Homo sapiens: one gene and its partners. The protein of the gene in region 1 purifies or fractionates together with the protein of each later gene. This does not show direct contact. Each region holds a gene or a part of one and is shown in the gene's direction. Other genes may lie near its edges.

Evidence for each region.
Region 2: the proteins of GALK1 (region 1) and CKMT1A fractionate together in Homo sapiens (co-fractionation; one large-scale study listed by BioGRID). This does not show direct contact.
Region 3: the proteins of GALK1 (region 1) and CD9 purify together in Homo sapiens (co-immunoprecipitation; one study listed by IntAct). This does not show direct contact.
Region 4: the proteins of GALK1 (region 1) and NDUFS4 fractionate together in Homo sapiens (co-fractionation; one large-scale study listed by BioGRID). This does not show direct contact.
Region 5: the proteins of GALK1 (region 1) and CKMT1B fractionate together in Homo sapiens (co-fractionation; one large-scale study listed by BioGRID). This does not show direct contact.
Region 6: the proteins of GALK1 (region 1) and MCCC1 purify together in Homo sapiens (affinity purification with a luminescence readout, with the first as the bait; one study listed by BioGRID). This does not show direct contact.

The regions. Positions count from the first base shown.
Region 1 is NC_000017.11:75,762,393-75,766,459, reverse strand, and holds the start of GALK1 (galactokinase), read left to right. Parts: upstream 1-1,267; 5' UTR 1,268-1,323; coding exon 1,324-1,488; intron 1,489-2,373; coding exon 2,374-2,563; intron 2,564-3,020; coding exon 3,021-3,140; intron 3,141-3,310; coding exon 3,311-3,446; intron 3,447-3,574; coding exon 3,575-3,756; intron 3,757-4,067. UniProt on the Homo sapiens protein: Catalyzes the transfer of a phosphate from ATP to alpha-D-galactose and participates in the first committed step in the catabolism of galactose.
Region 2 is NC_000015.10:43,696,859-43,699,722, forward strand, and holds the end of CKMT1A (creatine kinase U-type, mitochondrial isoform 1 precursor), read left to right. Parts: intron 1-1,155; coding exon 1,156-1,290; intron 1,291-1,782; coding exon 1,783-1,908; intron 1,909-2,114; coding exon 2,115-2,231; 3' UTR 2,232-2,364; downstream 2,365-2,864. UniProt on the Homo sapiens protein: Reversibly catalyzes the transfer of phosphate between ATP and various phosphogens (e.g. creatine phosphate).
Region 3 is NC_000012.12:6,227,900-6,231,399, forward strand, and holds part of CD9 (CD9 antigen), read left to right. Parts: intron 1-3,500. UniProt on the Homo sapiens protein: Integral membrane protein associated with integrins, which regulates different processes, such as sperm-egg fusion, platelet activation and aggregation, and cell adhesion.
Region 4 is NC_000005.10:53,640,639-53,644,138, forward strand, and holds part of NDUFS4 (NADH dehydrogenase [ubiquinone] iron-sulfur protein 4, mitochondrial isoform 1 precursor), read left to right. Parts: intron 1-3,500. UniProt on the Homo sapiens protein: Accessory subunit of the mitochondrial membrane respiratory chain NADH dehydrogenase (Complex I), that is believed not to be involved in catalysis. Complex I functions in the transfer of electrons from NADH to the respiratory chain.
Region 5 is NC_000015.10:43,592,545-43,596,826, forward strand, and holds the start of CKMT1B (creatine kinase U-type, mitochondrial precursor), read left to right. Parts: upstream 1-1,482; 5' UTR 1,483-1,674; coding exon 1,675-1,823; intron 1,824-2,150; exon of another isoform or gene 2,151-2,334; coding exon of another isoform or gene 2,335-2,427; coding exon 2,428-2,626; intron 2,627-2,829; coding exon 2,830-2,925; intron 2,926-3,311; coding exon 3,312-3,533; exon of another isoform or gene 3,534-3,534; intron 3,535-3,662; coding exon 3,663-3,748; intron 3,749-3,863; coding exon 3,864-3,987; intron 3,988-4,282. UniProt on the Homo sapiens protein: Reversibly catalyzes the transfer of phosphate between ATP and various phosphogens (e.g. creatine phosphate).
Region 6 is NC_000003.12:183,017,108-183,019,496, reverse strand, and holds part of MCCC1 (methylcrotonoyl-CoA carboxylase subunit alpha, mitochondrial isoform 1 precursor), read left to right. Parts: intron 1-2,159; coding exon 2,160-2,231; intron 2,232-2,389.

The DNA.
Region 1 (4,067 bases):
AGTTTTCAGAATTGCCCTTGGAATGCAGTTCCCCACTCTTTGGGCACACCCCTGAGCAGGCCCCAAGCTAAATCCCTGGCCATAACTCCCCACACTACTCCCACCCTAACCCCAAGCAAGCTGCTTACATTTCAGTCTTTCAGTTTCAAGGTTCCATGTAGGGTGGGCAGCTGTGGACAGGTATCAAGGCAGCAGTTGGGGCCGGCCAGCAGGTTTAGGATGCAGGATAGCAAGAGAAGAGTGCCTGACTGGGAACAAGGCCACGCCTCTGAGACAAGGGCTTCTGGGCTGAAGTAGTGCCTGCTGGGGCCAACAGCACAACCTACCTGGACAGCTGTGGCAGGTCCTTAAGGGAGGGGCTGGGCCCACTGCTGGCCACCGCCACCCTAGTCCAATTCTCCATTGCTAGGAGCTGTTGCGTATTACCTAGAAAAGGAGCTTGTAAAATTGACTCTCTGGTCACCACCAAACTTGTCTTTTTTTTTTTTGAGACAGAGTTTTGCTCTTGTTGCCCAGGCTGGAGTGCAATGGTGTGATCTCAGCTCACCGAAACCTCCGCCTCCCAGGTTCAAGTGATTCTCCTGCCTCAGCCTCCCGAGTAGCTGGGATTACAGGCATGAGCCACCATGCCCAGCTAATTTTGTATTTTTTAGTAGAGATGGGGTTTCTCCATGTTGGTCAGGCTGGTCTCCAACTCCCGACCTCAGGTGATCTGCACACCTCGGCCTCCCAAAGTGCTGGGATTACAGGCGTGAGCCACTGCGCCCGGCCCAAACTTGTCTGTCTTTATCTCTACTTACAGTGAGTGTCAGGTCACCCTCTTGGAGACCGGTGATCAGAGGCTGATGACCTCTCACAGCTGCTGGCCCTGGGGACCTAGGGGATCCCTTTGGGAATCCCAGGTCAACCGGGTGCCAGCTCCATTGCTCTGGCTGTGTGGGTGGTGGTGGGTGGTGAGGCACATAGAAAGTCACCAGCGCCAGGGAAGGGCAGCTCAGAAATCCTGGTCATGCCAAGTGCCACTCAGGGCTATTCTCACTCTAGTGAGTGCTCATTGGTTCTTCCCGAAGTCCAGAGGGAAGGACACCATCGGGGGCGCTGTATCCCACCCGGCACCATTAGCCCCTGCCACCCACCACCCAGCAGCTGGATTCCCACGGGAGTTGCGGGTGGGGGCGGAACCGGCTGAGGTCTGGGGGCGGGGCGTCCGGGCGCGGGGCGGGGCTGGCGGGAATGTGCGCACCCCCGCGCGGGGCCCCGCCCGAGCATCCCGCGCCGACGGGGCTGTGCCGGAGCAGCTGTGCAGAGCTGCAGGCGCGCGTCATGGCTGCTTTGAGACAGCCCCAGGTCGCGGAGCTGCTGGCCGAGGCCCGGCGAGCCTTCCGGGAGGAGTTCGGGGCCGAGCCCGAGCTGGCCGTGTCAGCGCCGGGCCGCGTCAACCTCATCGGGGAACACACGGACTACAACCAGGGCCTGGTGCTGCCTATGGTGAGGGGCTGCACGGGGAGCCCCTAGCCCGCCGCCGCCTGTCCCGGCCGCCGAGGAGGGCGGGCCTCGGGGACGCTGGGGGCGAGTTCTTCCCGCGGGAGATGTGGGGCGGGCAGCTGCGCCTGGAGCACCGGTGCACGGAAGAGTCCCCGGGACAGGCTGTTCCCCACGTTGGAAGGGAGGAAGCGAGGAAGTGGCCGGGAGAGGGTGCGCGGCCGCCTCTTGGCTCAAGCCCGCCCTCTGGGGGCTGGGGCTCCTCGCCTTCAACCTGGGAGCATGTTCCCCTTAAACTGTGAGGCCCTGTGTGCCACGCAGAAGGGGACACTCCGCGCCTCCGGCCACCGTGGGGCCCCAACCGCAGACCTGGGCGAACGTAGCCTTCTGGCCCAGCCCGTTCAATTTACAGAGGAGGAAACTGAGGCCTAGAGAGGCCCAGTGAACTGCTGGAGGTCACACAGCAGGTTCTTGGCGGGGCTGCGACTTGGGAGTGAGGACTCCCAGCTTTCAGCGGGGGGCGCTTTCCGCCCCATCTGCAGCTTGGGGAGTGCACAGGTACAGGATGTCCAGAGCCACCCCAAAATGTAAAGGCTTTGGAGCTCCAGTGATCTGTTTTCCCTTTGGGCTAGCTCTCCCCCTTGCCCCACAGCTCAGGGCAGAGTCCAGGTCTGTGCTCCAGCTGCAGCCGCCCCGCCCCTGAAGACCTAAGGGGGCAGGGCTCAAGCCCCCAAGGTCAGCTGGCCCTCAGGATCTTCCCTGCGACGCTGAACCTGGAGGTTCAGAACCTGATGACTGTGGAGGCATCAGAACCTCGGCTGGAGGCAGTGTCATTGGAGAGGCTTACTCCAGCTGGCGGAAGCCTCACGTACTGCTTGTCTCTCCTGCCAGGCTCTGGAGCTCATGACGGTGCTGGTGGGCAGCCCCCGCAAGGATGGGCTGGTGTCTCTCCTCACCACCTCTGAGGGTGCCGATGAGCCCCAGCGGCTGCAGTTTCCACTGCCCACAGCCCAGCGCTCGCTGGAGCCTGGGACTCCTCGGTGGGCCAACTATGTCAAGGGAGTGATTCAGTACTACCCAGGTATGGGGCCCAGGCCTGAGCCAAGTCCTCACTGATACTAGGAGTGCCACCTCACAGCCACAGAGCCCATTCATTTGTCTGATACACTGTGGGGAAGGCTTGTAGAGTGGAGCATCCCATTGTACAGATGAGGAAACTGATGCCCCCAGAAGGTCGGGAACTTGCCCTGGGTTTCCCGTGACCTGATTGGAGGAGCCAGGATTTGAACCCCAGCCTTTTTTCCCTCCAGAGCCCTAAACCAGGAGGACAATTAGAAGTGTCCCAGCAACCTCAGAGGGTGGGAAAATGGAGGGCAGTGGGTCCCTTGGCCCAGCAGGTTGGTGGCTTCTGACAATTGAGACACACACCCTAGAAACAGCTGCTAGGCCGTTGCTGCCCTTCCCGCCAGGACACCTGCCCTTCCTGTGCCATCCTCCCAGGCAGCCCCTCTTACCATCACCTGTTCTTTCCCCTGCAGCTGCCCCCCTCCCTGGCTTCAGTGCAGTGGTGGTCAGCTCAGTGCCCCTGGGGGGTGGCCTGTCCAGCTCAGCATCCTTGGAAGTGGCCACGTACACCTTCCTCCAGCAGCTCTGTCCAGGTACCAGCTAGGCCCCAGCCCTGACCCAGCCCTCCTTCCCTGAGGTCTCCAGGTGGTCCCAGCTTCTACTATGCCTTATGGAGGGGGTGGCAGGGACTCTCCCTGGAGTGTCATTGAAGCCACTGCTGCTTCCACCAGCCCTAGCCTCCCCACCTCACCCTGTACTGCAGACTCGGGCACAATAGCTGCCCGCGCCCAGGTGTGTCAGCAGGCCGAGCACAGCTTCGCAGGGATGCCCTGTGGCATCATGGACCAGTTCATCTCACTTATGGGACAGAAAGGCCACGCGCTGCTCATTGACTGCAGGTTGGGCTCGCTCCCCTCGTCCCCTCCCGCCCTGCACTCAGCAGCTCCTGGGTGGGAGTGTGCCCACTGCCTGGCGCAGCAAGCACACGCTTGGCCTCGTCATCTCCCCCATTGTAACTCCACCCCAGGTCCTTGGAGACCAGCCTGGTGCCACTCTCGGACCCCAAGCTGGCCGTGCTCATCACCAACTCTAATGTCCGCCACTCCCTGGCCTCCAGCGAGTACCCTGTGCGGCGGCGCCAATGTGAAGAAGTGGCCCGGGCGCTGGGCAAGGAAAGCCTCCGGGAGGTACAACTGGAAGAGCTAGAGGGTGAGAACTGCCAGGGTGCTCTATCCTGGAGGCGGCTGTGCTCCCTGCTGGCGCCTCAGTGTGGCCTTGACCCTGCCTGGGACCCCGATCTCCAGGGCCTTCTGCCATGCTCTCCCCAGTCCCTTCAAACACTGCGCACCCAGGGTTCCAATCTCAGCAGGGCTGCTTGAAATCCTAAAATGGTCTTATCTAATCAGAAAAATCATGTTTCCATTGTGGAAAATGTAGAAAAGTACAAAGTAGAAAATAATAAGCTATAAGGCCACTACCCAGAGATAGCCACTGCTGACATTTTCACGTTTCCTTTCAGT
Region 2 (2,864 bases), on another chromosome or scaffold:
TGGAGGATAGAATGGTTCGAGTTCTAGAATATGTGGCTCTAGATGAGAGGTTGAACTGAATCATCAATCCTACATGGATTGGGTCTCCGTATTCAAGTCTACATTAGAAATCCCCATAAACTCAATTCAATTCTTACTGTATGTTCTCAAACATACAGTTCTATTTTAGGTTTGCAAAGAAAAAGAGCTCCTCTTTTAGATTCTGAGAAGTTTCTACTATTTTTGGCAAGTAATAGATAACATATTCTGACTATGAGTGGGTAGGGAAGTACCTTTAAATTATATGCCTCAGTTTCCTCATCTGTAAAATTGGGATAATGAGATTTTCTACATTTTAGGTTGTTGTGGGGATTAAGTGAAATACAGGTAAAGTACTTGGTCCACAGTAAGTGCTTAATAAGTGTTAAAGTGTTAGCTGCAATATTATTCTGGATGGAAGAGTTTCCCCCCATGTTCAGCACATAAGATATCCCTGGTGGCATGGTTCCTTCTGAACTACAAACAGGATCCCTTTACTCATGTTGGATAGTGGTCTTTGTGATCATCACTCTGCTAGATCCCTTGTCTCTTGAACTCTAATAGTCATCTTCATGACTACATGGTTAATGGAAGCAAAATGCCTTCCCCCTGTCCCCTATTCCTATGAATCTGGCTTTCCTGCTCTGTTTTCATCTTTCTCTGCATTCACACAGGTGCTCCGTTCACAGCTAATAGAACGTTATCTCACCTCTTCCTGGCAAAGCTTACACCTTCATCTTCTGTCTGAAAGGACCCTTCCAAGCTCTAGGCTCATTAGCAAAGCAAAGATAATCGATGCATGCAGACCTCATTGAATAATCAGTCCTCTCTCAGTTCAGTTTACCACCTCTGTTCATTTCCCTAGATCATCCTTAATACACCACGCCTTCGAGTTTTCTTCTTCCACATAAGATATTTTTTCACAATCTCATTATTATGCACATCATAATTTTGCATCATGCATGCATGAAAACAATAACAAACCTTTTTCATTTAAAAAAAGACCAATGTCATTCATTCACAGCCAAGTTTCTATTCTAGACAAATTTCTAGTGTTCTTGTGGGTCTAGCTAAGGGAGGGTCCAGGGTTAATGAAATATCCCTGATTTTTCATTAATAAAAACTTTGTGGACTCAGGTGGAGAGACTTATCCAAGAACGTGGCTGGGAGTTCATGTGGAATGAGCGTTTGGGATACATCTTGACCTGTCCATCTAACCTGGGCACTGGACTTCGGGCAGGAGTGCACATCAAACTGCCCCTGCTAAGCAAAGTAAAGGAGTTGTGGGGTTACAGAGGGGTGTGAGTAAGGAAGGGTGGGTTGTGGATGGGGAGGGAGTGGACCCTTTGGAGAGGAGCCAAACATGTTGTGGCTAAAGGGTCAGAGGACAGGCCAGGCACAGTGGCTCATGCCTCTAATCCCAACACTTGGGAGGCCAAGGCAGGCAGATCATTTGAGCCCAGGAGTTCAAGACCAGCCTGGGCAACCTGGTGAAACCCCATCTCTACTACAAATACAAAAGTTAGCTGGGTGTAGTGGAGGCTGAGGTGAGAGGATCACTTAAGCCTGGGAAGTCGAGGCTTCAGTGAGCTGTGATCACTCCAGCCTGGGTGACAGAGAGAGACCCTGTCTAAAAAAAAAAAAAAAGAAAAAAGGAAAAAAAAAAGTTCAGGAGACAGAGCTCTGAGCAGGTTCAGGGCTCTTTCAGGTAGGACTAGTCTCTGCCTCTATTGACCCTGCTCCCAATCCCTATCTCCTCTCTAGGATAGCCGCTTCCCAAAGATCCTGGAGAACCTAAGACTCCAAAAGCGTGGTACTGGAGGAGTGGACACTGCTGCCACAGGCGGTGTCTTTGATATTTCTAATTTGGACCGACTAGGCAAATCAGAGGTGAGATCCTAAGGGATTAGGATGAGGAGAGGTATAGGTCTGTGGGGGCTGAAATATGGCAGTGAGTGAGCCTCCGGGATGTAACATAATCTGAAATGAAATTCAGGTTGAGTGGGGAGGCAATTGGAAATGAGCAGGCAAGTCAGTCAGTGATAAAGAAAAACTCAGACTGTAGGAAGCAGAGATCAAAGATTAGTGTCCTTCAGGTGGAGCTGGTGCAACTGGTCATCGATGGAGTAAACTATTTGATTGATTGTGAACGGCGTCTGGAGAGAGGCCAGGATATCCGCATCCCCACACCTGTCATCCACACCAAGCATTAACTCCCCATCGCCAGCTGATGACTCAAGATTCCAAGGAGTTCTGCTCATTCTAATGATGGCCCATTCTACTTGCTCTGGACCTGCCCTCGCATCCCCTGCCTCCATCCTAGTAAAGACTCCTTGCTATGCTGCAGCTGTCTGTGTTACTTCTAATGGTGGGGTGAGGAGGGAGCAGCCTTCAGGAAATGAAAAGAGGCAGTGGGATTATTTATGATGGAAAGAGACTCCAGATATGGCAACCCAGGAACACTGATTCTCAGGTGGGTGGAAAGCATTAACATTTTACCCATATTCCTCATCAGCTTCTGAAAATAATCAGGATGCACTTCTGTTTGCACTTTATTCATTATGACTTAAGATTTCTCTCCCCACAATCTCCTTCTACTGTAGAGACAGGCTCATAGCAGGTGGCCAAGGAAGCTGATAGTCAATACCAGGGACCAGGAAGGTCGTGACCAGTCCTGGAGGCCCCAGGCTGTACTTCGACCTATAATAGACAGGGAATGGGAGTAATATCACAACTCAGCTCTCCAGGAGCATTGATACTTGGAAATTAGCGCTCTGCCTGTAGACTCCTTCACTCCAGGGATCTCCCTGGGTGCACTCTAAGAGCCAGACAGCACCAAATTAGGG
Region 3 (3,500 bases), on another chromosome or scaffold:
AAGCTGCAGGGTGGCAGGAGAATGGTGAGTGCCATTAGAGGAGCTGGGGCTCACCTCTGGGAACCTCACAGGATTCAGATCCTGCAGGTCATTGCAGGGCCCTGCTGGTGGCCGGTGGTCCTACCTGAAGTGACCAGGAGGGTGATTTGAAGGCACAACCCCAAAGAGACACAGATCCCCTAGTTGGGGTCTAAGGGCCACTGTCCACTTAGCTCTGCCAGGGAAATACAGATCCTTTGCAGCGACACCCCATTCGGGGAAGAGAGCGGAGCTTTGAAGACTTCGTTCTGCCTGCAGAAGCGCCGGCAAGGGGGATGATGCACGGTAAAGTTAGAACAGCAGCACTGTGTCTGGGCACAGTGATCAGCCCTGATCTCAGGTGATCCGTCCGCCTCAGCCTCTAGCACTTTGGGAGGCCGAGGCAGGCAGATCACCCGAGGTCAGGAGTTCGACACCAGCCTGGCCAACATGGCAAAACCCCACTTCTACTAAAAATACAAAAATTAGCTGGGCGTAGTGGCGTGCACCTATAATCCCAGCTACTCGGGAGGCTGAGGCACAAGAATCTCTTGAACCTGGGAGGCAGAGGTTGCAGAGAGCTGAGATCACACCACTGAGGCTCTGTCTCCAGCCTGGGAGACAGAGCGGGACTCCATCTCAAAAAAAAAAAAAAAAAAAAAAACAGCAGCACAGCACTCTGAGCACTGCTTAGGTCTGAGCTATGCCCTGAACGTCACTGAACGCTTTAGGAAATAATAATTGTCGTCCATGGGCAAAGGGCCAAGGAGGCGTCGCTCTGTGTCCCCTTCCCCACGAGGCTGTGAGACCAGCCTTCTGTACTGGCCCAGAGCCCTTCTCCTAGCAGATGAGCTTGGAGTGCCAGCCACACCCTGGCTACTTTTCCAAGGAATAGTCATGGGGTGACCGCCCCTTGCACTGGGCCACCAACTGTCTGCAGAGCAACCCACAGGCCAGCCTGACCATGCAGCTGACTTTTCAGGAAACCTGAACAGCCCAGGGGTGTCTTTTCTCCAGTGGGGCCACAGCTTACCAAGTAGAGAAAGAGTATATAACCAGGCAGAAAAGCAAGTGAAAACCTTTCCAACATTCAGAACAGTCTATGGTAAGTCCAGAGCAGCTGACAGCCTTATATGGGCCTTCTCTCCAATCCAGGCCTGGAGATTCAGCCCGTCAGCAAGATCCCTAATCCCAGGCTGCAAACTTGTTGGGGAACTTCATTTTCTTGGTCCTAGGCCAGCAGCCTTTCCCAGCTCCCTGGTGTCCCTCCAGAACCATGGCTGCTGAATGAGGGCATCTAGGGGGGCTCCAGCCAGAGGCCGTGAATGCCCCCCCTTCCTCGGCCAGCCCCCTATCCATGATGAGGTGCCTGGTGATTTTCAGGACACGCGACACTTGGCCTTAGTAAGCTGGCATCCCCATCCTGGCTTGTGACCTGGGGCAGTTCATTTTATTGCTCTGGGCTTCATTTTTCTCCCTCCTGAAACCAGCACAGCTTACACAACCACAGCACAGCTTACACACCCACTCCCCTCTGGGGCAAAGAAGTACAGCGTGTGGCAAATGGAATTCCATTGTGGCACTTATTCCCGTGAACTCGGGAGGGCGGGAACCAAGACGAAACCAGTCGGGGCAGAGGTAGGGCTCCTTTGAACACCTGGTGGAGTTATTTGGATATAATAAACTTTTATTGCAGGCCAGAGGCCCTACCGGATTTTGTTCTCCTTCACACAAACGGGCGTGGTGAGTGCTGTTTGCAGGACAGAGCTGGTGTAGGGACGGGAGCCTGCTGTGTCCTCTCCCTGGGCTAAACTGAGAGCCCTGGTGAACAGTGAAAAACACTGTTCCATTTCTTGTGTAAAGGACACGCTGGCATATGCTACTGCTGCTACACCAGCCTTTCTTTTTTTTTTTTTTTTCTGGGCCTGTAATGTCAGCCTGAAAAAAGCAGAATAAACAACCCTTAAGCAAATTAATACCGTAATCCTAGAGAAGGCTCTGTGATGGATAACTTTTTCCATGAGTCAGACAGCAAGCTAACATTCGCTTGTTTTATAAAGGGGAACACTTTGTCATTTATCAACAGCAGCCTTGGCTAACAAGCTTGGGGTGTAAGCGATGAGTAGCTTCTCCAAAGGGAAGCACTGAATAGCCCTTGTAAAAACCAGCCCGAGCCCTGCAGTGGTTCCGTGACTTCCATGGGGCCTGCTTCCAGATGAGCTGTCCTGTAGCTTGCCGGCTGCTGCTGAGTCCCCGAACACAGCTGCCAGGGGATCGCTTCCCTTTTCCCGTGACTAGAGAGGGCTAAAGCTAGGCACTGCAGATCCGTAGCCATCCACGCAAGATTTAAAGCCCACAAAACCCGTGATCCTAAAATCTTCCTCTGCTGAGCCCTAGCATGAATATTTAATATTAACCACAAGCCCCATTAGGAGCATGTTCTCTTTCTCTGCGTGGGAAATACTTTCTCTTTAGTAGCTCACTTGCAGCTAATCCAATTCCCTTGGCCTCTGCCAGGACCGCCAGGTTCAAGAACTGGGATCTGGACTTAGAGAAAACATGTCTGCCTGTTCGTTCCCACTCCACGGTATTTCATGTGTTTGTAAATCCTTTTGATCTCTTAATACCTCCTGTTTATTCAGCCCCTGCTATGGAGCTCAAAGGAGTGACCTCATCCTTCCTTGACTTGCCCCCATTAGATGGGGAGAAACTGGGGCCTTTCTACTGTCCCCATGTGAGAGAACCAAAGGAGGCTGCCCTCTTACCCAGTGCTCCATGCATGGGGCTGCACAGCCTCCCCAAGCCCAGCTTGTGGCCTCAACAGCGTTTGACTGCCCAGGAAGATGCGACCTGACTTGAGGACAAGCTACATTTGTCCCCTTGCCCAGTGTGGGCCAGGCATGCACAAGAACAATACCCATATTCTTGCAACATGGGGTTTGCCAGTAACCCCACGTGACTTGACCTCACGACGGATGTGGGGGAGAAGGGGGAGGAACAAACGCTCTCTGTGTGCATTCTGCTCTGTGCTGCCCGTGAGCCTCAGCTGCGGGCAGACTGCATGGTTTGTTGCCTGCAAAGTCTCACCCCTGCTCGGGGTGCAGATGTGGGACAGTGAAGTCAGCGTGTCACCTGCCGAGGGTTCTCATCGAGTGTCCTGCTGTGTATTGTGGGGAAACATCACAGACTTTCTCTCTCGCGTGCGTGTTTTCAGCCCCTACATCAAGGATATCTCTCTGGTCCCAGTGAAAGGACAGTAGGGATACAGCAGCAGGTTAAAATTCACCATGGTGATTATTAATGATTGTTACTCATGCTTGGTATAATTGAGATTAACAACAGCTAGCATTTGTTGTGCACATGTGGATTATATCACTTAATCCTCACAGCAATCCTGGAAGTGGGCATTATTGCTACTCCTGTTTTACAGATAGAAAACTGTTGCACAGAGAGGTTAAGTGGCTTCCCCAGAGTCACAGATC
Region 4 (3,500 bases), on another chromosome or scaffold:
CAAGAACTCACCCATTACCACAAGGGCAGCACCAGACCATTTGTGAGGGATCTGCTCCAATGACCCAAAAACCTCCCGTTAGGCCCCACTTCCAACATTGGGGATCAAATTTTAACATGAAATTTGGAGGAGATAGCCCTTTCCAAAGATAGGCAAAAAGAAAGAAAAGACTTTGTTGCTATAGTGGTTATGGATCTCCAGTTTCCCATGGAATATGACATGCCTGTAATCACACACACATTAATCTGTGACATTAACCATATGACTGACCAGCTAAGGTTGAGATGACAGAATCCCCTTAAAGACCGGGACCTTTATTACAAACTTCCCTGAGAGCTGGTGTGGTTGGACAGAGAATGTCCTTTAAAAAAATGTTTGTTATTTTCTTGAGGACAGAGATCATGTTTTCACTGTTGCTCATTGTGTTCAGTGTCTAATATGTAGTAAGTGCTAAAAAATACGTTGAATAAATGAGAAACATTCTTTTTGTTGCCGAAGGTAACCACTTCACATATGTTATTTAGTACTCATTTTGGTATAGCAAACTGATTTCATACATGATGAAAAAGGAGTCTATTAATTTGCCCAAAGTTGAGAACTGGGATTCCAACCCAGTTTTGACTCAGCCCTTTGCTTTTAGCCAAGGCTTTCCTGCTCAGAAGGATCTAGGAGTGGTAAAAATAGTTTGTGAGATTGAAAAACATGTCTCTAATTATTAGTTTTGTACTCCTTGTATGATTAGTAGCATCATTTGCATGAACTATTTCTATCATATTATCCACAGCAGTTCATTCAAACTACACTTTTGGCTCAATGATAGTTTTGCCCAGTATGCAAAATATAACAGATGTCACATTCCAACACTTGATTCATTGCCTGGTTGGACTCCAACATCAATTTGTTACTTTAACAAACAAACAAAAGTTGGTTCTAATGGCACAACTCAAATTTATTTTTATGTTTTTTATTGTATCTGAATCTATATGGCCCCTAAGTTTTTAGAAGTGTTTAAGTTCTTCCACAGTAAGTAAATAGATATGATAATGCTATCTGCCAACTCTTTATATTTTTTAAACTGTAAAATTTATTTTGTAAAATGTCCTTATTTATGAAACCTTTAATGAGTTTCTTGCTTTAAGTATCTGTGGGTTAGTTGAAAGAAAGTTTTTATTACAGGTCTAAGACTTGCTTTTCTTTGAACATCTTTTATGGTTGAAATAGAATGTAAACTCAGTCATCAAATTTAGATTAGTTTTAGCTGTAAATAACTAATAGTCTGCGGTAGAACAAGTTTCTATAAACAGTATTTTTAATGTTTCAATATGTGCTCTACTAAAACTGTTCAGCATTGATCCATACTAACATGCAATTTAGTGAACTTACTAGGAAAAGCATGATAAAAGTTTTGGCTTTTCTGGGCGTACTGAGAGATCTAGCAAAAATGCATCCCAAAGTGCAAAAACCTTACATTTATTTCTCTTCATGACAAGTGTAAACTGTTAAGGTTAAGTGGGTGGGGCAACCGGAAGTAATTACTAAGGCCAGTGGCATTTTTGTGGTTTAATAAAGGCAGAAGCTAATTATTCAGTTTTTATTTAAGTGAAATGGTGCCAAAAAGGAGGTTCCTGTGGAGCAGCTGCACTCCTTCAGTGTTGCCCTAATTTACCAAAGACACAACTGTCACAAACAAAACTTTTAAACTTGATATATAGCCACAAAAGTAAGGAGGCTTTTGTTGGGAGTGCATGCAGAAGAACTCCTTTATACAAATCAACCGGCAGATGACGGACAATGATGAAAATTTGATTCTTTGAAGTCATAATAGTCATTGAAATGTGTGAAATTCTGGTATTGAAAAGAGAGCGGCCAGCAAGACTCTAAATCCTGGGTGGTTGCAAGAAGCTTGCTGGGAGGTTTTTCTGCATTTTGACACCAACTTCCCATTGCTTGTTCCCTGCTTCCTTTGTTAAAGAAAAAAAAAGTTGAAATCACAGAAGATAAATGGAGACAGTTGATAACCGAATCATACAGTTTTAATATGGAAAACTAGTATTTTATCATGGAAATTGGTATTTGAAAGAATAAAGTTCATATACATATACTGGTACATTCATAGTGATTTTTTAAATTTTCTCTTCATTTATGTAGACTTGTGAAATGGCAGGTCAGCTATCATCTCCTCCAAAATTTAAAATTGTTGAAGATATGGTGTTGAAAGAATGAACTTTGGAATTATGACATGCATCTTTCCAATAGCAAATTTTGACTTGAATGCCCTTAATCTGTGAATTATCATTGACTTATTAGTTATCATTTATTAAAATAGCATATTGCACATAAGGTTGTATTTCTGAAACTTTATTAGGATAATGACATTAATAATGGAAGCATAGGTTTCATACTTGACCCAACTATTCAACAATTAAGTTTTAAAATTCAATAAATCTGTGTATATTACTTATAGAGTAGCTTGTTTTATTAGAATTTACAGATAATTATTAACTGGTGAGTCTTGAGGTTCTTCAGGTGCCAGCTTGAAGGCTTTTCATACCTATGTGATTTAGTTTTTTGAATTATTATTTATAAATTATTTATCTCTATTTTACCAGTAAAATAAGAAATTTGTAAAAGGCAATAGTGACATCTTTCTCCAAAGCATTTCTAGCTTTTCTAAATAGGTTTCAAAAACTCACAGGTGATCCATATTGCCATACAAAAGTAGAAATCCATAAAGAATACAATTAGTTCAATATAATTTAAATAGTTTGCGGATTTTAAATTTTTTTGTGAAAGTTAGATCTCAGGTAGCTCCGTGTGAATTTAGAGGGAACCACACAAAGCGTTGAAGACACAAGTAGAGTTCAGCATAGTGCCTCATAGTTCTTTTCAAGTGTTACATTGTTTTAATGGAATCTTGGAGTGGGAGCTTTAGCCCATTGAAATGTGCTTAAAGAACAGGTTCTTCTGTCACTAGCCGAAGCTGTGTGGATGAAATGATAACAATAGGGTGTCGTGATGCATTTTTAAAGTGTGAGAAATCAGGTTGTCTAGACTGAGAGTGTGCCTACAGGGACTAGGAATTTTAGAGCCTCTGTACCCTTTAGGTGTCAAGTATATGAGAGATGCCAAGCCTCTTTATTCTGTCTTTGGCAGCAGCTCAATTGGGCTGTAGTACCTTACATGTCTTCTGCATGCAAAAACTGATTCTGTGTCATGACAACTTGGGTTCCCAAAATCAGAAACCCACTTGTTCAAATGCCAACTTTAAATTAGGGTAAGATACCAATAAATAATTGCTGTAATTCGAGAAGACATGGAAGATTGGTAGTTATGAGTTCAAAATATAAATAGCTTAGCAACATTGTGTAGACACTTTTTAAAAAAGGTTTTCTATATACTGTCCTTTCTACTTTGTAGCTCAAATACTGTTTTATAGTATAAATCAAGAAATACTATTTCAATTTTTTTCAAAACTTGAAAAAGTTTAAAATCTTAAGTTT
Region 5 (4,282 bases), on another chromosome or scaffold:
AGAATAAAAGGACACAAGGAAGGCCTAAGGAGAATGAAGGGAATGAGAGTAATATGGGGGAATTTTCTATGTAAAGGGAATTCTCTTTCCCAAATACTCTCTGTTAAGATTTCCAAGTATCTGTCTTGTGGGTACACCAGGATAGCAGAGGGAAGGGACTAATGCCACGGTGCTACTCCACCTTAACTGACCCTCCACGCTGAAGCCCCTCATCTCTATTTCAACTCTAGCATTCATTCTCCTTGCTACCAGGACAAAGGTCAAATCATACCTGGAGCTGGGAAACAAAGCCCTCTCAAATCTGAATATGTGTTTCACGAGGAGAGAGAGAGCAGCAGAGGGGACCACGAGGAAGGCAGAGATTCCCTGACGACCTCATGCCTTTGTACACCACTCGCCTTTACTCTCTGGATTAAACAGCATTAGGGAGACAAGAGAGGAAACACATGTGGTGTCTGGAGACCTGTGCCTGCCTGTTCCAGTCCCACACCCAGTCATCTCACCACACCCTTCACCTCACTTTACCTTCTCCTCCAGCACAGGAACTAGGAACTACGGAGAGAGAAGCCAAGGGAGAGGAGGAGGAGGAAACTAACGATTCCCTGCCCACCCCCACACCCAGCACCACCAACAGGTGGGCAAGCTTGCCGAGAAAACGCAGAGGGCATCCTGTGAGCAGCAAACACATCTGAGCCTGGAAAAGACGCAGAGAAGTAAAAGATCAAAGGTGAGGTAGGGGACGTGGAGGAAAGTGGGAGAGACAAAAGGAAAACAAAAAGTGGGGGATCATGAGAAGCAGAGGCAGGAAATAACAGGGCTTCAGACTTGGGTGCAGAATGGAGGTGGAGGACACAGCACAGATGGCATAAGAATTAATATTTCCTTGGTTCCTCCCAGGGAGTCCTTTCTCAACTTTGTAAGGCGTGCACAGAGGTGGCAAGGAAGCACCTTGCTCCTCTTCCTGGTTCTAAGGAAAAGGTGACCTTGAGCCAGTGGGTGTCTTTCCCAGTGCCTGCCTCTAACCCTGTGCTTTCTCCATATCCTCCTCTGGTATCTGTGTTTATTCCGCGGTTTCCCCGCGGCTGCCCCCGGGAGACCGAAGAGGTGGCTGGGGCAGGCCGAAAGCAGAGGAAAGGTTGGGCAGTGTCACCCTTGCACACCCACAGGGTAGACGGATCGAGTTTCAGCTTAAACCGAGGGGTGTGGGGGAAGGGTGTTGGGTTCAGCTAGTCCACGTGGGTGCTGTCCTCCACTTGGTGCTGAAATCTGGGCGGCCACATCCCCGGGGCGGGAGGGGGCTACATCCCCGGCTTTAGACGCGCGAGTCTCAGGTCCCGCTAATTACCTGGCGGGTGCTGCCCACCCCTGCCCTCGCGCACCTAGCGCGGTGGCAGGCGGGAAGGCGGGGCCTGGGGGAGCCCCACCCCTGGAGACTGCGGCTGGGGCCTCCCTCTCCTCCGCCCGCCCGCCTGCCACTAGCTCATTGCGCCTCTCCTGCAGTCTGATTGGCACCGGCTCCCATTCCGGCTCCAGCCTCCAATCCGACCCCCATTTCGGCTGCAGCCTCGGACCTAGCTCCGGCCCTCGGTCTATCCGGTTGCATCCTCCCTCCCTGTTCCGGATCTTATCTTGCGCCAGCGCCTACTCCAGGATCCCGTAGCCAGACCTCAAGCCATGGCTGGTCCCTTCTCCCGTCTGCTGTCCGCCCGCCCGGGACTCAGGCTCCTGGCTTTGGCCGGAGCGGGGTCTCTAGCCGCTGGGTTTCTGCTCCGACCGGAACCTGTACGAGCTGCCAGTGAACGACGGAGGCTGTATCCCCCGAGGTAACAGTGCCTGAGGCGCGGGAGGAGGCGGGGGCAGGAGGTGATGGGAACGAAGGTGCGGGTAGAAGTGAGAATCCGGGCAACAGAGAAGGGCTATAATCACGAAGGCCCTGGAGCTGGAGGGCTGTGCAGTCTGCAGACCTCAGTGGGGTGGGGGTGGGGGCCAAAACCATAAAGCAAGAACATTCCTGGGGACCTGCCAAGACCAGCTCTGGCCCTACGAGTTCTAGCTGCACTGGCTGCCCAAATCCCTAATTGTAAAGCCAGGAACTATCCTTTTCGCTCCCCTCCATCTCCTTCCCTCATTTCCTCAATTCCTCTCCTTAGGCTTTTCCCCTCCTCCATCCGTAGTGTTGTGTCATGGGAGGAAAGAACTGAGCAGATCTGAAGAAACTGAGCTGGCCAGCCAGAGGCAACTAGAACTATTAGGAAAGCATAGACTCTGAAAGTCCCTAAAGAGATTACCAAGGTTTACCCTCTTTCTAATTCCCCCTCCTCCCGCGGAGCAAAGCCAGACATGGCCAACTGGACAGCTCCCAGGTAACTGCACTAGGTCTAGGCGTCTGTGCCCTCCCTCCATGGTTACTGGGTACCCCCTCCCCAGCGCTGAGTACCCAGACCTCCGAAAGCACAACAACTGCATGGCCAGTCACCTGACCCCAGCAGTCTATGCACGGCTCTGCGACAAGACCACACCCACTGGTTGGACGCTAGATCAGTGTATCCAGACTGGCGTGGACAACCCTGGCCACCCCTTCATCAAGACTGTGGGCATGGTGGCTGGAGATGAGGAGACCTATGAGGTAGGGGGTCCCCAGAGTCTCCCTGATGATCCAATTCATCTTCCCAGTAATCCCAGCTCCTTTCCCCTAAAGACCTCTCACTTTCCCCCAAGACTCTGAGCCCCCCATACTTAAGTTTTCTGAACCAGTGAAATCAATGCACAATTGAAGTCTGGGGAGGGATTCCCTCTCCTTAACCATCTCTCCCTCTTAACTCCCCTTAGGTATTTGCTGACCTGTTTGACCCTGTGATCCAAGAGCGACACAATGGATATGACCCCCGGACAATGAAGCACACCACGGATCTAGATGCCAGTAAAGTGAGTTCAAATATCCCACTTCTGATTTGCATTGCCTGTGTACAACACTCTGTATCTCCAACCCCTTCACCTTATTTCCTGACTCATGGTCATTATACAGCTGAGCTTTTAATCTTAATGTAAGGAAAGAATCATATCTTAAGGGGCAGCATATATGGAGATGGAAGGATAGATAAGAATGACCATGACCCAAGGTGGGTGGTTTGGGGAAAGGTCTGCAATGCCCCCTTCAATTCCAGTGCTTTCCCAAAGGGCCTCTTCTTCCAATGCATGCAGGAAGAATGCACAAAGAGTCCTCTAATGCCTAAGGAAGGTCTCTCCTTTCCCAGGGGCCCTCAGTTCCCACCGTGTTTCTGTGACTTACATTCATTTCCCTTATCTCCCAGATCCGTTCTGGCTACTTTGATGAGAGGTATGTATTGTCCTCTAGAGTCAGAACTGGCCGAAGCATCCGAGGACTCAGTCTGCCTCCAGCTTGCACTCGAGCAGAGCGACGAGAGGTGGAACGTGTTGTGGTGGATGCACTGAGTGGCCTGAAGGGTGACCTGGCTGGACGTTACTATAGGCTCAGTGAGATGACAGAGGCTGAACAGCAGCAGCTTATTGATGTGAGGGCCTTAAGAGGGTGCTGGTTGGTGGGAGCAGATGGGGAAGGCTGGGCCAGATGAGACATGGGCTCTGAAAGGCCCAGGGGCCACCATGAAGATTCTTAACCCAAGTCCCGTTACTCTTCCCAGGACCACTTTCTGTTTGATAAGCCTGTGTCCCCGTTGCTGACTGCAGCAGGAATGGCTCGAGACTGGCCAGATGCTCGTGGAATTTGGTATGAAGCTGCTCATTACCTCTTTTGTCTTCATGCCCTCATAAATGCTTTTTTTCCCTCTATCTCTCCCAATTCTTGCCTTGCCTCTTGATCACTGTCCCTCTCCGGCCCTCAGGCACAACAATGAGAAGAGCTTCCTGATCTGGGTGAATGAGGAGGATCATACACGGGTGATCTCCATGGAGAAGGGTGGTAACATGAAGAGAGTGTTTGAAAGATTCTGCCGAGGCCTCAAAGAGGTTAGAGAAGACTATGTAGGGGAGCTAGGTGGGAGGACATAAGGAAAACCAAAGAGTAGCATAAATAGATTATGTAATTTACCAACCAACCCAGGACATGTCTTATAGTAAAAAGGACTATCTAGGACTCACTCCAGGACTAAAGGTGTAAACCAGCTGGGACCATACTGGGAAAACCAGGACATGTGGTCACACTAAGATTAGGAAAAGAAAGAGTGTCAGGAATCTTAGGAAGTGAACAAGGCTGTTGACAGAGAGTGCAAAGAAGGAATAAATGAGATGGCACGTCAGTGCC
Region 6 (2,389 bases), on another chromosome or scaffold:
TTTTTCTCTGTGTCCTCACGTGGTGGAAGGGACAAGGGACCTCTCTTCAGGCCTCTTTCATAAGGGCACTAATCTCTTTCATGAGGCCAGATCCCTCATGACCTAATCACCTGCTAAAGGCCCCACCTCCAAATACCATCATCCTGGAGGTCAGGATTTTAACAAATGAATTCTGGAGGGATATAGACATTTAGACCCTAGCACATACTGATATAACATCAAATGGTGATAGATCAGTATCCGTAGTCTCCTTTTATATACTTGAATACAGTAGAGTCTCCTCAAATACACTTAAATCATAAAAACTCAACTGTATATGCTTGGAACAAAAAAAGAAGAAGAAGAAAATAACTACTTAAATAGTGTGGGTGATTTCAGCCACTATTCTCGTTTGGAAATATTTACCCCAAGTGGGTATGAGCTAGGAGACCTGGATCTGCCTTTAGCTCATTTGATTTCAGTTCCCACAGGCCTCTCATAGTGCAGGCATCTCTGCACAACTCTGTTAGTCTCCCACTTAGTAGCCATGTTAACCAAAACGAAAGTGAGACCATATAGGATCTATGAGTCCATTTATATGTATACAAAAGAAAATAGAAATCTCTTTCTGGGGTTGCTAATAAGTTTGATTCTGTTGCATGAAGATTGTCTTCACATTTACTACACAGGGCTCTGAAGACTTCAAACACACTTACTATACTTAGCCCTAGACAACCCCAAAACAAGAAAACCAGTCAAGACCCTCATCCCTCTTCCCTCTCTGGGGAAGACATTTAAGTATATTAGTCCTTCCCTACTGGCAATGTGTCTTGTTTCTACATTCTTGAAAAAAATGAAAGGATTTCAAAATACATGGAGTATATTCATGTGATTCAAGTAAAACTAAGTGGTTTTGTGGGTGGGGACAGGGGACTAAGCAGTGCTACCCATGGACGACAGTGCCAGCAATGCCAGATTGACCTGTAGGGCTCTCATTTGACTAGTGCATTTGGGCTGTAGGCCTCTGATTTGACCAGTGCATTTGACCTGTAGGCCTCTGATTTGACCAGTACATTTGGGCTGTAGGCCTCTGATTTGACCAGTGCATTTGACCTGTAGGCCTCTGATTTGACCAGTGCATTTGGGCTGTAGGCCTCTGATTTGACCAGTGCATTTGACCTGTAGGCCTCTGATTTGACCAGTACATTTGGGCTGTAGGCCTCTGATTTGACCAGTACATTTGACCTGTAGGCCTCTGATTTGACCAGTGCATTTGGGCTGTAGGCCTCTGATTTGACCAGTGCATTTGACCTGTAGGCCTCTGATTTGACCAGTGCATTTGGGCTGTAGGCCTCTGATTTGACCAGTGCATTTGGGCTGTAGGCCTCTGATTTGACCAGTGCATTTGACCTGTAGGCCTCTTATTTGACGAGTACATTTGGGCTGTAGGCCTCTGATTTGACCAGTGCATTTGGGCTGTAGGCCTCTGATTTGACCAGTGCATTTGACCTGTAGGCCTCTGATTTGACCAGTGCATTTGGGCTGTAGGCCTCTGATTTGACCAGTGCATTTGACCTGTAGGCCTCTGATTTGACCAGTACATTTGGGCTGTAGGCCTCTGATTTGACCAGTACATTTGACCTGTAGGCCTCTGATTTGACCAGTGCATTTGGGCTGTAGGCCTCTGATTTGACCAGTACATTTGGGCTGTAGGCCTCTGATTTGACCAGTACATTTGGGCTGTAGGCCTCTGATTTGACCAGTACATTTGGGCTGTAGGTCTCAGATTTGACCTGTACATTTGGGCTGTAAGCCTCTGATTTGACCAGTGCATTTGACCTGTAGGCCTCTGATTTGACCAGTGCATTTGGGCTGTAGGTCTCAGATTTGACCTGTATATTTGGGCTGTAGGCCTCTGATTTGACCAGTGCATTTGGCAGATGGCACAACCACATGGGCTCTACTTCTGCTCTGTAAGTTTATATACCAAATCTGTGGACCACAAAGGACCTCTGTGTTGTTTTTTTTCTTTTTATTTATGTTTTATTGTTTATATTCATGGTTTGCAACATGATGTTATGAGTATATATAGACAGTAAAATGGTTACTATAATGAAGCAGATGAACATATCTAGGACCTCTGTGTTTTCAAATATTAACCTGTCACACTGAATCTCAAGGTGTTTGTCAAAGCTGGAGACAAAGTGAAAGCGGGAGATTCCCTCATGGTTATGATCGCCATGAAGATGGAGGTAAGGAAATCATGAGTTCATTTGCTATGAGGACTTTGGGAGCAATCATACCTAATGGTTCTTTTGCCTTATTTTGTAAGTTAATACCACCTTAAATATGAAAAGCCATGATTGACGAAGCATTAATTGTAGGAAACAAAACCAAACTATCCTTCTTG